Linked DNA regions of Homo sapiens: region 2 is linked to region 1. Evidence: fine-mapped expression QTL. A gene starts in region 1. The other region holds a variant in brackets. All regions are shown on one strand. Distances are from middle to middle.

What was found. PIP is the estimated chance that this variant, and not a neighbour inherited with it, causes the effect.
Region 2: its variant is the best candidate, but not a certain one, in a credible set for the expression of TBX3-AS1 in testis (GTEx, PIP 0.55).

The regions. Positions count from the first base shown.
Region 1 is chr12:114,676,990-114,685,410 of GRCh38, reverse strand. It overlaps TBX3-AS1 (TBX3 antisense RNA 1), which reads right to left and starts at 3,119. Exons shown (of 2, transcript NR_187552.1): 1 at 2,777-3,119. It overlaps TBX3 (T-box transcription factor 3), which reads left to right and starts at 1,236. Exons shown (of 7, transcript NM_005996.4): 1 at 1,236-2,599; 2 at 4,265-4,532; 3 at 5,760-5,906; 4 at 7,755-7,831. The coding sequence starts at 2,211. RefSeq lists a promoter at 725-1,234.
Region 2 is chr12:114,747,601-114,756,021 of GRCh38, reverse strand. All of the region lies in intron 1 of TBX3-AS1 (TBX3 antisense RNA 1), which reads right to left. Among named protein-coding and RNA genes, the nearest start is that of TBX3, 68 kb to the right of the region's middle. The variant GTGTGTGTGCA/A (reference allele first, on the strand shown) is at 3,390.

The DNA of each region.
Region 1 (8,421 bases):
CCAACCCAATCGCCCACCCCTTACCCTGTGCTGTGCACCCAGCCGGGCCTCGAGGTGAGGGCAGCGGCTTGGAGGGGACAGGCTCAGAACCCAGTCTCTCGCTGTGCTCGCTTTGTCCAGATCCTCCATTCTCTTCTCTACACCCACACCCACATCCAGGTGGAATATGGGGGCCCGCATGCAAATGAAAGACGAGATCCAAAAGGGCTGGTAAATGCATTTCATAAAAATCCCAAATCCATCTTCCCCAGGAGCTCAGGCAGGGCCAGCCGCGCAGGCTGTGTACGTGTTTGTGTGTACGTGTTTTTCGGTGTGTGTTTCAGTCCCAGTGTGTTGGCGCGTGTTCGAGTACAGATACACCGGGGGTGTTTGGGTACCCGCACATGGCTGCGGGTGGGGCGCAGTGGAGAGGAAGCCCACACATGCGTGTGCTGAGATATGGCCGCATCCTTGTGCTCCCCCAGCCCAGACGCAGGGGAGACCAGCACCGAGACACCCGAGCTCGGGAGCCCTTCAGCGGCGGCCGGGCGGAGCTTGGCTCCACGTGGGGCTGGAGAGCACGCAAGCCTGGAGTCTCGGCGCTCGCTTCTCGGCTGCCGCCGGCTTTTGTAGAACCGAGTGGCCGGATGGCAGCTCGCGGGGAGGCTCGGCCACCCGCCCGGCTCGCCCGGGGCGGGGAGAAGAAGGAGAGCTGGAGAGAGAACCGGCCGCGGCGGTCGGAGAGGCGAGCGGAGTGCAAGAGAGGCGAGCGCCCCTGCCCGGCGCCCGGGCGCGCTCTCCGCCTTCCCCGCCCGGCTCGCCTGCTCGCTGGCTCCCTCCCTCTCTCCCTCCCCCTTCCTCCTTGGCCCTGCCTCCTCCCTCGATCCCCGGCTGGATGACTGAGGCATTTCAGACGTGGGCTGAACCAGAGCGAGCGAGCGAGCTCAGGGGCTGCAGCGATCTCTCGATAAGCCACCTAGAGGCGACTCTGTGCGCGCGCGCTCCCCAGTGGCTCCCGCCCGCCCTCTGATCATGTTGACATATTCACAGGACAGGCAGTAGTACCGATGCGGCGCTGCGACGTTACAGTTTCCGACACCTTCTTTTTATAACTCAGCTCTATCCCCCAGCACTCGACCTGTGAAAACCACGCCTATGCAGCAACACAATTGGTCCGAAAGCGTCAAAGAGCCAATCAAGAGGCCTCCGGCTCCCCGCAGCCCACAGCGCAGCCCGACCTTCTAGAGCCGCCGAGCAGACGCCCGGTGAATTCTAGAGGCGGCGGAGGGTGGCGAGGAGCTCTCGCTTTCTCTCGCTCCCTCCCTCTCCGACTCCGTCTCTCTCTCTCTCTCTCTCTCTCCCCTCCCTCTCTTTCCCTCTGTTCCATTTTTTCCCCCTCTAAATCCTCCCTGCCCTGCGCGCCTGGACACAGATTTAGGAAGCGAATTCGCTCACGTTTTAGGACAAGGAAGAGAGAGAGGCACGGGAGAAGAGCCCAGCAAGATTTGGATTGAAACCGAGACACCCTCCGGAGGCTCGGAGCAGAGGAAGGAGGAGGAGGGCGGCGAACGGAAGCCAGTTTGCAATTCAAGTTTTGATAGCGCTGGTAGAAGGGGGTTTAAATCAGATTTTTTTTTTTTTAAAGGAGAGAGACTTTTTCCGCTCTCTCGCTCCCTGTTAAAGCCGGGTCTAGCACAGCTGCAGACGCCACCAGCGAGAAAGAGGGAGAGGAAGACAGATAGGGGGCGGGGGAAGAAGAAAAAGAAAGGTAAAAAGTCTTCTAGGAGAACCTTTCACATTTGCAACAAAAGACCTAGGGGCTGGAGAGAGATTCCTGGGACGCAGGGCTGGAGTGTCTATTTCGAGCTCAGCGGCAGGGCTCGGGCGCGAGTCGAGACCCTGCTCGCTCCTCTCGCTTCTGAAACCGACGTTCAGGAGCGGCTTTTTAAAAACGCAAGGCACAAGGACGGTCACCCGCGCGACTATGTTTGCTGATTTTTCGCCTTGCCCTCTTTAAAAGCGGCCTCCCATTCTCCAAAAGACACTTCCCCTCCTCCCTTTGAAGTGCATTAGTTGTGATTTCTGCCTCCTTTTCTTTTTTCTTTCTTTTTTGTTTTGCTTTTTCCCCCCTTTTGAATTATGTGCTGCTGTTAAACAACAACAAAAAAACAACAAAACACAGCAGCTGCGGACTTGTCCCCGGCTGGAGCCCAGCGCCCCGCCTGGAGTGGATGAGCCTCTCCATGAGAGATCCGGTCATTCCTGGGACAAGCATGGCCTACCATCCGTTCCTACCTCACCGGGCGCCGGACTTCGCCATGAGCGCGGTGCTGGGTCACCAGCCGCCGTTCTTCCCCGCGCTGACGCTGCCTCCCAACGGCGCGGCGGCGCTCTCGCTGCCGGGCGCCCTGGCCAAGCCGATCATGGATCAATTGGTGGGGGCGGCCGAGACCGGCATCCCGTTCTCCTCCCTGGGGCCCCAGGCGCATCTGAGGCCTTTGAAGACCATGGAGCCCGAAGAAGAGGTGGAGGACGACCCCAAGGTGCACCTGGAGGCTAAAGAACTTTGGGATCAGTTTCACAAGCGGGGCACCGAGATGGTCATTACCAAGTCGGGAAGGTAAGCAGTGGGGGCCTCCTCCCCTAAGCTGTTGGAGAGTTTTTTCCTCCCTTTATTTCTCTGCTCCCAGAACAGTCGGTTGGTCGGTTATTACGGCTTGGACGAAAAGTTAGTTCCCCTAGAAATGTATGCACAGACTTCCAGGCCCTGCCCCGGTGGCAGGAAATTTCAGCTTACCTGGGCATCTGCATGGGTCTTGCATTTGGTCTGCATCCTGGGTTCCCTCCCGAACAGACAGAATTTTTCAGTGGAGCACAGACATCCCTGCAGGGAGCAGGAAAGAAAAAAAAAAAAGGCACTCTACTGCAAGAAACTCACTCTTCAAACCCTCCTGGAACATCCTTATTTCTTTGTTGATGTTGTGTTGTCTGTTTTATTTTGTTCTCAGAGAGAAAAACTTAAAGCCCTTTCCTTTTGTGTGGGTATTGGGAGGCCTGACACCATTCCCCGGCCCTTTCTGCCCTCCAGTCTAGCCTCTGGGTCTAAAGGGGCCTGCTGCTGCCCTGGTCAGAGAGAAATCGAAGGGCATTTTGGTTTGTTTGCCCACACTACTTCACGTGTCTGTAACCCAAGGGCGAGTTCAGCAGGCAATTTTGCATAATTTAAGATTATGTTTGCAGACTTAAGGAGCCAGTGAGGAGACACACACCTTTTTTTTAATGTGTGAATATTATCAACCATATTTTACATAATGTTTAAAGGTCCTTGCCTGACCAAAACCTGCCTGGAAGAGAAGATCCTGTAATAGTCATTTAAAATCACTGATTTTTTTTTTGTAATAGCATTGAAGCCTGTAAAGGCATAAAGTTGATACAAAAATAAAATCCCCTTCATGATATCTTAAGCGTTCTGTCTCCTTCCAAGCTAAATGAGGCCAAAGTTTGGCATAAAATCCTCCTCAAACTCACAAGACATTTAGTCAGTTTTCCAGCAAAGTGCTTCCTTGCTTCCTTTTAAGTCAAGACTACAGAATGCCAACCCTTCTGTGAAATTAACAGCAATGTGGTGGCACAGTCTTGCGGTTTTGGACTGGCCTAAGAAGTGGGGGAATGTGTTAGCAGCTCCACGGGCAGATCGGTTATCAGGCCCAGGAGTGCACCGAAGTCTGCAAAATTCGTTCTGGGAACTCACTGAAGTCCAGTTTCACTTCGCCCACAGCGGGATTGCTATTCTGCAGCAGGGAGGGGTGCAACTTGACGTTCATTTCCTTGATAAGTTTAACATTTTCTCATCAATGGGTGGTGGAAAATTCTAGTCTTAACTGACCGCGCTTTACAAAAATCTTACCCCAACCTGTTTAGATCTAGATACCCACAGAAAAAGACATGGGCAAGAATTTGCTCTCAGGAGGGCAATCTGTAAAGTCAAGCAAGGACAAAAAAAATATTGAAGAAATTGTTAGACAATGTAGAGAATTGCAGTGCCACAATGCATTTGTTTTGAACCTTGGGACGTCTAAATATGGCGAAACTGAGAATATTTAATACGTTAGTTGTGGAAGAAAACGATTTTGCAACCAGTTGCCTCACTCTGAAACATGTAAGCTTATCAGTCACAATATAAAGTCTTAGACTTGGTTTCAATATTATGTGATACATAGGAAATCAAACCCAAGATTACGGGTGGTTTATCTTTCTTTTTCTTTTCTATTCTTTCGTTTTATAGGCGAATGTTTCCTCCATTTAAAGTGAGATGTTCTGGGCTGGATAAAAAAGCCAAATACATTTTATTGATGGACATTATAGCTGCTGATGACTGTCGTTATAAATTTCACAATTCTCGGTGGATGGTGGCTGGTAAGGCCGACCCCGAAATGCCAAAGAGGATGTACATTCACCCGGACAGCCCCGCTACTGGGGAACAGTGGATGTCCAAAGTCGTCACTTTCCACAAACTGAAACTCACCAACAACATTTCAGACAAACATGGATTTGTAAGTTTCATTGCTCTCTTCAGTAAAATTTTCTCCTCCTTCACTCAGTCAAAGGCAGTGCTTCCCATTTCATGAGTTTCAGCCCAGACTTCTCCTTTGCTTCTCCCTAAGCATAGCAAACTTGTCCTCGTCTGGAAAAAGGATTCGGGGTGTTTCTCTCCAAATAATGGAAGGCCTGGCGTTCTAAAAGAAATGGGGCAAGAAAACTTACCGGCTTGTGTTCTATAGCAATTCCAGCTCTTTGGTAGATTCCTGACCTGAGAGTGAAGTTAAAAACCATTTTTTAAGAGCTAAAATCAATTTCAAGGCTATGTATTCCTAAAGGATTTGTTTTGTTTTAAAATATCATACTTCTGTTTTGAAACCAGTGATATTATTTTCTCAGGAGAGTTTACGTTTCGGAGCCTTGACTCTGTTGGTTAAATGGTGTGAATACATTTTTAAAAACTCGTTCTTTTACTAAAAAAAGAATTGGGCTTAGGTGGGAGTCCGGCTTACCCTAAATGAGGCTTAGATCTTCAGAAAAAAATGGTTTGTGTGTTGGGAGTGTATATATGGATTCAGTGACAGTGCTTAGAAACTTAGAAAACTTTCATTGCTTGTAGATATCAGGCAAAGGACCTTTTGCGCCTTTTCCTACCCCTCCCCAACATTTCAATAAAATAAACAGCGTGATAAGCAAGGAGTAAGCAGAAAGATTAGGCCCAGGAAGACGCGAATGGCGCGGAAATATCTTCAGCGGGCAGGAATTGCATTTGAAGCCCTTGATTTGATTAAGGCATAAATATTCCTCTCTAGAGTTCAGCCTTTCAGGGCTTTAAGTGGATTGGGCTCGTCAATTAGTGGGCGCTTAAAGTACTGAATCATTTTGTAAATTAAAATGCATGTTTTTCTCTATCTTTTAAGACTTTGGCCTTCCCAAGTGATCACGCTACGTGGCAGGGGAATTATAGTTTTGGTACTCAGGTAGGCTAGGGTTCAAGGTATGAATGATCCTTAGATGGTGAGGGTGGGGGGGGCCCTTTGGCAACTGAGGAGCAATTTGGATTCTCCAGAAGATAACATCTGTGGAGCGAAACGTACCCAGGGGGTACTCCAAGGAGGTGGGCTCGGTACAAGCGTGGTACCCTGCGGTGGGGAAGATTTCAGCCTGGCAGGGGTCCTAAGATCCCGTTTGTTCTGCTAAATCCTTGTTTTATGTATGTCTCCTCTTCCCTGCCCCTGCAGACTATATTGAACTCCATGCACAAATACCAGCCCCGGTTCCACATTGTAAGAGCCAATGACATCTTGAAACTCCCTTATAGTACATTTCGGACATACTTGTTCCCCGAAACTGAATTCATCGCTGTGACTGCATACCAGAATGATAAGGTAAACTCAAGGGGCTTTCCTTTTTAATGGTGATATTTTGCCTTCCCCTTAAAAGCTGCTTTAAGTCAGGATGAGAAAGTTACAAGAGAGTGGAGACGAGAGTCTTGAGTTGTCTTTTGTGATTTGTGGAGCATTTGGGGGGAAAGGACAATGACACCTCGAGGAGACAGAAAAACACCTTGACTAGGTAGGAACAATGCTGAGCAAAAAAACGCCATACTAATTTTGCCACAGAGAAACTCCTAGAACTGCTGTCATTGATGCCACCCACTCCTCCCCCCCTCTTGGGCTTTGTCCTGTCTGTTTTAAGGTTCATCTTCTTCCCCTTGGGGAAGAAGGATCAAGAAGTCACATTCAAAAGGAACCAGCTAAAAATTTAAGGCAAAAGCCATTTGGGATCCTGGGAGGAGAATCCTAGTAGAGACCAGCTTTTCTCCCCTAGCCAGAAATCCTGAGTAGCTGGTCTGGTTTTTATTACCTTTTATGCTGCTGTGTTATGATGTGTGTGTGTGTGTGCATGTGTGTGCATGCATGCGTGTGGTTGGAAAAACCTACCCTGATCACAGGGTCATATTAATCGAGTTGTCTGAGGCTTTTGAGTTGGGGTGGCCAAAGTCACCACTTCATTTGAATTCCCCCCCTCCCCCAGGCCTGAATCTGGAGGTTAGAAGGATCCCCAAAAGGGAAAGCACCTGATATCTAGAGCTATGGTGGCCTGAAGGTCATGGGCACAGAAAAAGTGACCCTTACTGCTGATTCACCAGTTCCCAGATTGGCTGTTAGCAGTTATGGGGTGGGAGGAGGGACTGAAGACCCCTGCTCTGCAATCCTGGACTTCAAAGAGAGTCCATTTTACCTGACAACACACTTCATTTTGAACTCACTGTCATTGTCACTGTCCTTGGGTCCTCTGTGGACTTCATGATGGGGATGTTCCAGCTAAATTTCTTTAGTGTGAATACCAAAACATGATCTTCTCTCCCTGTGAAACCTGAAGTCTTCAATAGAGCAATTTATTCCAAGAACATGAATCCAACCAAGGGTCCCCCTTTCCACCTCTGAGTAACTCTGTGTATATAACTTCTTCTTCCCACCAAGGGGAAGGGATTTGAAAGATTACACACTATAGCATTTTTCTCAAAGTGCAAAATGCATGTGCCCTCTAGACCCAGAATCCTGTGAAATGAAGTTGTTAATGTAATAATAAAATGTAGCATTTTTGATCAGACAAAAAGGCCATGGGCCTTCTCCACCTAATGGCCATGGCAGAGCATATAAATGAAAACAGATGTTTCCAGTGGTCATTCAGTACTGTAACTGTCAATATTGTAATTTCCTCAAACCACCCCCCAGGCAAAGAAAAAAAAAATTAAACTCACTCCCGCACTCACTCCCGCACAAGGGTAGTGAAACCCCATAAATCATTTATTGGATTCATGGAAAAGGAGTGTGTGTGTGTGTGTGTGTGTGTGTGTGTGTGTGTGAAGGGAGTATGCTATAATTTATGATTAATTGCACTGTATAAAAATCAAAATGAAAGCATAATTTTAAGATCTACAGGTTTTCCCTCTTGATGACTTTGACAACACTTCCATGTCTAAACCCAAACTGTTGGCTGCCCAAAGAAAAGAATTTCTTTGAATAATTTCATCCCCAAATCCCTGGTTTGGCCTCATATAGGAGATACAAGCCCTGCCACAGTTTCCTTATTATCTCCTTTCCCTGGCATATCTATATGACTTCTGTTGGCAGTCACATCTCTAGACTTGTTGAGTTGGGAAAAACACCCTCAAAACATTCTAGAAAATGAGAACAATGTCTCTGTCTTGCTTGTGTCTCTTCCAATAGATAACCCAGTTAAAAATAGACAACAACCCTTTTGCAAAAGGTTTCCGGGACACTGGAAATGGCCGAAGAGAAAAAAGGTGAGTTGAAACAATTATTTATTAGATAGTTTAGAAAAATCCCTTTTTTTAGGATCCAACTCTGAAGTGTTAGAAGTGAGATGCAGGCACTTATCCTAAGAGCGGGTGGAAATCATTCACTTTCCCCACTGCTACATGCTTGCCGCTATCAGTATACCCAGGACAAGTACTTTTCCTACCTCCTTACCTTTAAGGAAATTAACTAGGCTACACCATACTTATCTCTGGAAGAGAAGCATCAGGGATAATAGATTATACAGGGATGCCTATTAATTCCTAATTAATTTAAGTTCATCCTAGGCAGGTCCCAGAAAGAACCATGCCATTGAGAAAATACTTGGGAATTTTTGCAATCCTGTCTTCCAAATACCATCAGACAGAGCTGGGGACTTCGGAAAGATGTATGGCTCTCTCCCTCCTTCGTGGGGACATGTATCATTTTGCATTACGTAGACAGCTGGAGAGTATATGAAAGAGGGTCTCCCCTCCCCCACCCCCTTTCAAAGAATTTCTAAAATCCAGAAAATCACCCCCAAATTTTTAACCTATCCCCTTGGGGCGGGCATTAAAAAATAATTGCTAACAGCTAA
Region 2 (8,421 bases), 71 kb before region 1:
CCTTGACCTCCTGGGCTCAAGGGATCTTCCTGCCTCGGCCTCCCAAGTAGCTGGAACTACAGGAGCACACCACCACACCCAGCTAACTTTTAAATTCTTTATAGAGACGAAGCTTGACCATGTTGTCCAGGCTGGTCTTGAATTCCTGGGCTCAAGCAATTTACCCACTTTGGCCTCCCAAATTAATTGCTGGGCCTATAGGCATGAGCCACTGAGCCTGGCCCATGATGCCTCCTGACAGTGGAACACAACTGAGCTCCTGGTGTAGAGACAGATTTATTGGCATGGAGAAGCACATTCTATATTGCTAAGCTTTGTAAAAGCAGGTTAGCAAACAATCTGAAAAGAGAGATCTAGAAAGGTGTTCACTGGGGCTGGGTGCGGTGGCTCATGCCTGTAATCCCTACACTTTGGGAGGCCGAGGCTGGCAGAGCACGAGGTCAGGAGATCGAGACCACCCTGACTAACATGGTGAAACCTCATCTCTACTAAAAATACAAAAAATTGGCCGGGCGTGATGACAGGTGCCTGTAGTCCCAGCTACTCGGGAGGCTGATCCAGGAGAATGGCGTGAACCCGGGAGGTGGAGCTTGCAGTGAGCCAAGATTGCGCCACTGCACTCCAGCCTGGGCAGCAGAGCGAGACTCCGTCTCAAAAAAAAAAAAAAAAAAAAAAGGTGTTCACTAGGAGGTCAATAGTGGGTACAATTTGGGTTTTTATTGTTCTTGTTATTTCTGTATTATTTAAATATATTAGAGGCTGGGCGTGGTGGCCCATGCCTGTAATCCCAGCACTTTGGGAGTCCAAGGTGGGTGGATCACTTGAGGTCAGGAGTTCGAGACCAGTCTGGCCAACATGGCGAAACCTTGTCTCAACCAAAAATACAAAAATAAATGGAGCATGGTGGCATGCACCTGTTAAGTCCCAGCTACTCAGGAGGCTGATGCAGGAGAATCACTTGAACTTGGGAGGCAGAGGTTGCAGTGAGCTGAGATCACACCACTGCACTCTAGCCTAGACAAGAGTGAGAGACTCCATCTCAAAATATACATATAAATAGATAGATAAATATACTATGTGTAGAATATATTATAATATTATATATGTATATGTATATGATTTACCTGATAAATAGAACCATTGACAGTATATGTGATATGTGCCTGGTACAGTGGCTCATACTTGTAATCCCAGCACTTTGGGAGGTTGAGGTGGGAGGATCTCTTGGGCTCAAGAGTTCAAGACCAGCCTGGGCAACAGTGAGCAAGACCCCATCTCTACCAAAAAAAAAAAAAAATTAATTAGCCAGGCATGGATATGCACACCTGTAGTCCCATAGTGGTGCACACCTGTAGTCAGGAGGCCAAGGTGGGAAGATCACTTGCGCCCAGGAGCTCAAGGTTACAGTGAGGTATGATCACACCACTGCACTCCAGCCTGGGTGACAGAGTGAGATCCCATCTAAAAGAACAAAAAAGCAAGCTGGACTTCGCGGCTCACACCTGTAATCCCAGCACTTTGGAAGGCCAAAGTGGGTGGATCGCTTGAGCCCAGGATTTCGAGACCAGCCTGGGCAACATAGTCAGCTCTTGTCTCCTTAATAAATAAATAAGTAAATAAATGCAAAAAAGTATATGCGATACAATCTTATTTTCATTTAAAATGCATATACCATACACAGAAGAAGACTAGAAAGATATATGGTAAACTATGAATGGTTAGCCCTATGTAATGGGATTACAGGTGATTTTCATTTTCTTCTTTTTCCTTATCTGCCTTTTCTACTTCTCCTATAATGAATATATATTACTTGTTTAATTTTTCAAGTGTTGTTGTTTAAGAGCTGCTCCTCTTATTATGTTTGCCAAAGCCTCAGAGCCTCCATTGGGAAATACGTTAATCCAGTCAAGATCTTCTTGTCCTGGAAACAAACTCCAGGGCTGGTCTACTGTGATTTTAAGTATCTAGGAGGATATGAAATTAGGGGAGGGTGGGAGTCCCCCATTTTCTGGTCATTGTCAATTTTATAAAGATGGCAGCCTAAGGAACTCCCTAAACTACTTGATCCAGCCAGTTGGTGTTGCCTTTAAACTTCAAAGCCAAAGAGGGGGTGATAAGTGGGAAATCCCACTTTCTGATACCAGTGATAAGAAATTCTCCTGCTCTTCTCCTTCCAGATAAATAACGCTGACCCACCACCCTCCATGCAGCCCCTCTTGGAAGAAGAGTCATAAAAATATGGCAGGCAAAAGCATCTGTAAAAGGATGACAGGATGACATAATGCCAGGAAAATTTACAATCGATTTAGCAGACAGAGGTGGCTGTCAGTCTGGGGGCTCTCCAGAGTTCAAGCATGCCCATAAAAGAACTCAACAACCCAAAGACTCTACTGCGAGGAAGAGATCTCCCTGCAAATCCACCTGTCACTGGTGAGCAGAAATTCCCTGAGGGAGCGGGAACTGGTGTATCTGTGTCTGGAACAGCCAAGGATGGAAAGAGGAAGACCCCTGGAGTGGACAAAGGGGACTTCTCCAGTGATTTAGGGCTCTGGATCTCCCCCCAGCAAAAGTCCTTCTGGTGCCCTAGGGGTCTTGAAAAAGTCGGCCCACAGAGGGACAACCATGGAAAACGAAACTCGAGGGGCTTGGGGTGGGAGGGAGTGTCGAGGCCCAGTTGCTGCTGTCTGGTAGAGCTAACACACAGGCCCCAAACATGCGTGACCTCTGGTTCACATCAGCACTGCTGATCAAAAGCAAGCAGCTCACTCCACCTGGCCCAGGCCTCCCCATCCAGGGAGGATTCAAAGCTACTGGCTTCATGGCTGGTGTGGCTTCCATTAACCCAGAGGTTGGTGTTGCGGACTTCGAGAAAAGTTGAACATCAAACGTAATGAATCATGAGAAACCAATAGCTTGGGCCAGCCCAGTGACCTTTTAAAGAAAGATAATATTACTTAAAACGAACATAGCCGTGGAATCATTAAGATAAACAGTATCGGTTCGAACTCACTTCAATTTCAACTGCAGACAGCTGTCTGGGAAGACTTGTAGGTGCCGTTTTCCTCACCGTGGTTTGTCTAGCCCCTATCTTGCTAAGTCGAGCGCGTGTCTTTCGCTGGCCCCTAGATAAATAGCAAGGAAGATGCCATGCTGGGGATTAGGAGCACTGCAATTGCTGAAGAGAGTATTTTCCATCGTGAGATCTTTGTATGTCCAAAGAATTTCCGGCATCAAAACCAATGAACTGCTCATCTTGCTTTCCTGCCCACTGTTAGGTACACAAATAAGTATCAATAGCCCTGCCCCAGCATCCCCTGGGGTTCTAAAATATCACAGACAACCCAAAGGATAGTGTGTGTGTGAGTGTGAGTATGTGAGTGTGTGTGTGC[GTGTGTGTGCA/A]TGCTCATGCTCACGTGCCATCCTTGTATTTTTATATATACATGCTTTCTGCATTGTCCAAACATTTGCATACAAGTAGACATGGGGTATTTTGTGATGCAGACAGAATCCTCACTTCAAGAAATCAGATCAGTTTCAGGCAATTCCCGGGTTCAGCGAGAGGCCAGTCTACCCAGAAACGTAAACCAGTTCCAGCCAGGGTGAGGTGAATGCTCACTAGACAGACGTATTGGCCCCACATAGGTTCAGCTCAAACGCACACACTGAAGTACACGCACACACACACACATGCACGCATGCATGCACACACTAATTTTGTGCTTAGCTGTCATAAAACTTAAGACACTTATATGAGGGTGAAAGGTCAGGAGGGGGAAGCATTATTTTCTGTTATTAATTACACCTTATCCATTCTACATGTGCTGCACTCGTCTTAGATAAAGTTACAGTTCTATTTTATTAGGAAGCCTCCAGGATCATGTAAAGGGGGATTTTGGATTGAGACAAAGGAAATCGCAGGATGGGGAAAGGGCGGGGGGTCAGGGGTTCATTTGTTCTCCTGCTCAGAAGCCAAGCCAGGCTTCTCCTCTGCCATTTCCAAGACTGAATCTGCACATTCTTGAAATAGCTCATCCTGCAAATGCTAAATGAACCTGGTCCCTAACCAACTCAGTCCTGAGCAGGCTTTGGGAGAAGAGAAGGAAAGGAGAAGGCAGTGAAGGAGAACAAGTGGGGTAAACCACCAGCCAGGCTGCTGCTGAGTTCAAAGACAAAAGTGAGGCCAGCCAAGGGGAAGACTTGAAAGTTCAAGTTCAAATCTGTGTCACCCCTGCCTGCCTTGCAATGGGTAGCTGCCTGCAGGGATTCTTACTGAACTTGGAGCTCCCATGAGGGAGGAATAGGCCTGGGGATGGAGTGCTGGTTGGTTATAGGCAGAGGGAAGCCCTCGTGGTTAGACAGAAAGGACCCTTGAGCCCCATCACCCCTGGCTAACAAGGAGAGAAAACTGTCCATTGTGGGAAACAGGGACCAAGACTCCCCAGACCAAAGAGGTTGCAAAATGGCAGGGTGGAAAGGGGATTGTAAGAGCGTAGAATGCAGCCAGAATAAAACTCCAGGACTAAAAAAAACCTAGATTTGAATCCTAGCACCAACCTTTTCCTTGGTTAAGTCGCTAGCTCTCTCCGAGCCTCAGTTTCCCCAATTTGGAAACAAGGAGAAATAACATCAATAATAGCATGGATAACACTACGGTCACTAACAGCAACAATTACACTAAAACCACTGCAACACACAGCAGTAAGGATAATAAGCCCTTCCTACGGTACTGTAAGATAGCATAATGAGAAGCACATCAGGACCCATAAATCATAGTGCAGATATAATTTATTGTTATTAATATGATCTGCCCTGTCCTTCCCCAGCCCCTCGGGCTGCCAGGAAAGTCTGTGCTCTGTCATCATGCACTTGAAGACAGGTTGTTTTGTCCCTTCCCTCTTCTTGTTTCTAATCACAATGTTCTAATTCTCCGGCTGAGGTTGAATTCAATTCTCAGTCAGAGCTCGATACCATATATCACCCCCTGTCCAGGATAGCGATCTGGCTTCTGTCTTCTAAGCACTCCAGAGCCGCCAAGTGCCGAGCGCTTACTATGTGCCAGGCGCGGGTTCCACTTTCAGCATTAGCAATCACATTTACGGCTCCCAGCAATGCAGCCAGAGACGTATTTGTATAATATCACCCCCATTTCACACAGGAGGAGACTAAGGTTCAGGGAACTGATCTCCTCCCAAGAATGTCTCGCTCCAAACGAGCACGTTCTTCCGCCAAAGTGCACTAACACCATGCCATCGGGTCTTTGGACAACTTGGTAAGGCAGACTCCAGCTTACTCCAATGGTCATGGTATACACAAGGAAACAAACTCAAGCAGGACCCTGCTATCTCTTGAGTTCAATTAAACATTCACCAACCCTCAACTGTGATTTCAAGGAACATGGAAGACGAGGAGGGAGGGAGGGAGCGAGGAGGCCGCCTGCATGAAGTTGGAGCATGTCTATCTGCACATCAGAATGTTTCCTGGGGGTTCCGCCAGGAATTGAGGCCTGTGGGCCCTACTGGCAGTCCTGCCAGTGAATCCAAGGCCCCAGCTCCCTTTGATCCTCTCCACAGTTCATGCCTCCCCTGAGGGAATCCCACCTTGCAGCCCTGATGTCTAACTTGTGATATCCCAGTAGTGTCCCTAAGAGCACCAGGCTAGCCGGGGGACTTTGAGGTCTGGTGACACTGAGAGGGACTCGATGTTCTGGGAGAGAAAAGACAGCCAGCTTCCTAGGGATAGAGCACCTCCATGTGCCAGATATTACCTTGCAAGTCCCCTCGCTGCTCATTCACTTGTTCCCTATATTTTTTTCTTTTTCTTTTTGAAACAGGGTCTCGCTCTGTCACCCAGGCTGGAGTGCAGTGGTGCGATCACGGCTCACTACAGCCTGGACCTCCCGGATGCTCAAGTGATCCTTCCACCTCAACTTCCAAGTAGCTAGAACTACAGGCATATGCCACCATGCCCAGCTAAGTTTTTGTAGAGATGGGATCTCACTATGCTGCCCAGGCTGGTCTCGAGCTCCTGGACTCAAGTGATCCGCCTACCTCAGCCTCCCAAAGTGCCGGGATTCCCGGCATGAGCCACGGTCTCTATTTCTCCTTATGTAGCTGAGTTTTCATGTTTCTGTTTTGCAGGTGTTGTCTGTATTTCTGACCCTCTCCTTGGCTCTGTTCTTCTGTAGAAAAGAGAATTTGTGGGTAATTCTCTCTGTCTCGCTCCCTTTTCTTTTTTCTTCTGCTGCTTCTTTCATGCTCTCAGACTTTTAAACTTTTAACCTCTATCTCTTCCCTCTCCGTCTCTCTCTTTCTCTCTCTCTCTCTGCCTGACTCTTTCATTCTTTGTCTATTTCTCCTCTGTCTGTCTCTGTCTCTCCCTCTCCTTACATGGCCTCTACCCCATCTCTGCCTATTTCCCCATATGTGGCCTGCCTGTCCATCCTCTGTCTGCCAGAGCACCGGGAAAGCCCAGTCATTCCACAGAACAATTAGCAGCAGCCACCAGGGAAACATGGTTCATGGTGATGAGATTCACCGCAGTCCAAAGCCCATCCAGGGCACACAGGGTTTGGACAAACCTGTCTAATACCTTCCTCACCTTCTGTCCATCACCGAAAACAAGCCTGTGTTCACAGAGGATCAGGGTCATTTCAAATAACTGAACATGTTATTAGGAGACAAAACACTGCTGACAAGGATTCCTGGGAGGTTTTTGCTATGTGGGGGGTCAACGGCCTCCATTCTCCCTGAAAGGCTTCCAGACATGCTCATCAATTTCCAATTTACTATTTAGTCCAACATTGCTGGGGGCTTCCAGGCCCACACTAGGAGGCTGGCTCTACATTTTCATGTTTTCCAGCCAAAAATGTCCCTTTGGCTAAACCTCGGAGCTCATCTACATTTTGAAACATTGTGAACCAAACCAATCCACACATATGAAGGGCCAGGGTGTCTTTGGCACAGCACCACCCCTCACCCCAACATACAGACATTTATTAGGCAAGTGTCTGCCAAGAACCCAGCATTTGCTGAGCCATTTGACTAAAATTCCTCCTTTTTAAATATTATTTGTAGAGATGGGGTCTCCCTGTGTTGCCCAGGCTGGTCTCTAACTCCTCCTGGGTCTAAGTGATCCTCTCACCTCGGCCTCTCAAAGTGCTGGGATTTAAATTCCTTATTTTAGTTTTAACTTCTCAGTGGAAGTGAATAGTATTAATTTTCTTATTGTAGACCGAAGGCTGAGATTCAGGTTAAACACAGTGACTTTTCCAAGGTCACTCACCCAGTGTGATAGCAGCCCTGCTGAACTGCTCTCTTTAACAGGCAAGAGAGAAACAGAGTAAGAAATGAGCCTGGGCCAGGCACAGCTGTGCACACCTGTAATCTCAGCACTTTGGGAGGCCTGGCCTGGGGGATCACTTGATCCCAGGAGTTGGAAAACAGCCTGGACAACACAACGAAACCCCGTCTCTACAAAAAATAAAAAATTAGCTGGGCATGGTGGTGCCCACCTGTAGTCCCAGCTACTCAGGAGGCTGAGATGGGAGGATCACTTGAGCTCAGGAAGTTGAGGCTACAGTGAGCTGTGATTGCACCACTGTCCTCCAGCCTGGGTAACAGTGCATGACCCTGTCTCAAAAAAAAAAAAAAAAAAAAGCCACACATGGTTGCTCATGCCTATAATCCTAGGACTTTGGGAGGTCGAGGCGGGTGGATCATCTGAGGTCAGTAGTTCGAGAAGAGCCTGGCCAACATGGTGAAACCCCATCTCTACTAAAAATACAAAAATTAGCTGGGCATGGTGGTACTCACCTGTAATCCCAGCTACTTGGGAGGCTGAGGCAGGAGAATCGCTTGAACCCGGGAGGCAGAGGTTGCAGTGACCGTGATCACACCATTGCACTCCAGACTGGGCGACAGAGTGAGACTGTCTCAAAAACAAAACAAAAACAAAAGTGAGAAAAGAAATGAGCCTGAGCTTTGATTATTGTTTCATGCTGATCCTCGTCTCACTGATTTTCTTTCTCCTCTCACCGATTTGCATTAGAACTGGGTTTTGTTTCTGCATTTTTGTCACTAAGCTTCCAGCACCCATCCCCGTGCAGAAACAGAATTTCTCCTCTCTAGAAAACAGCTTTTTTGGCTAGAGAAACGCTATTTTCTCCTCCATGTAGGGGCAGGAGGCATTCCGAATAGTTAGCTTTTGGAAGGCAAATTTGGCATCCGGGATTGTTTTCTGCCTTATTAAACTTTTCAGAAACTGTATCTCTTTTAAACAGCCTAAGGGGGCTCTCCCCGCATCCAGTTCCCCCTCCAAAGGACCCTCTCTATCAGCCCACACGTTCCCTCATCCCATCTGTCAGAGGCCGGAGCCAAAACATGTCCCAGGAAAGCCGGAGGAAGGGGCGAGGCAGGGAGAGAG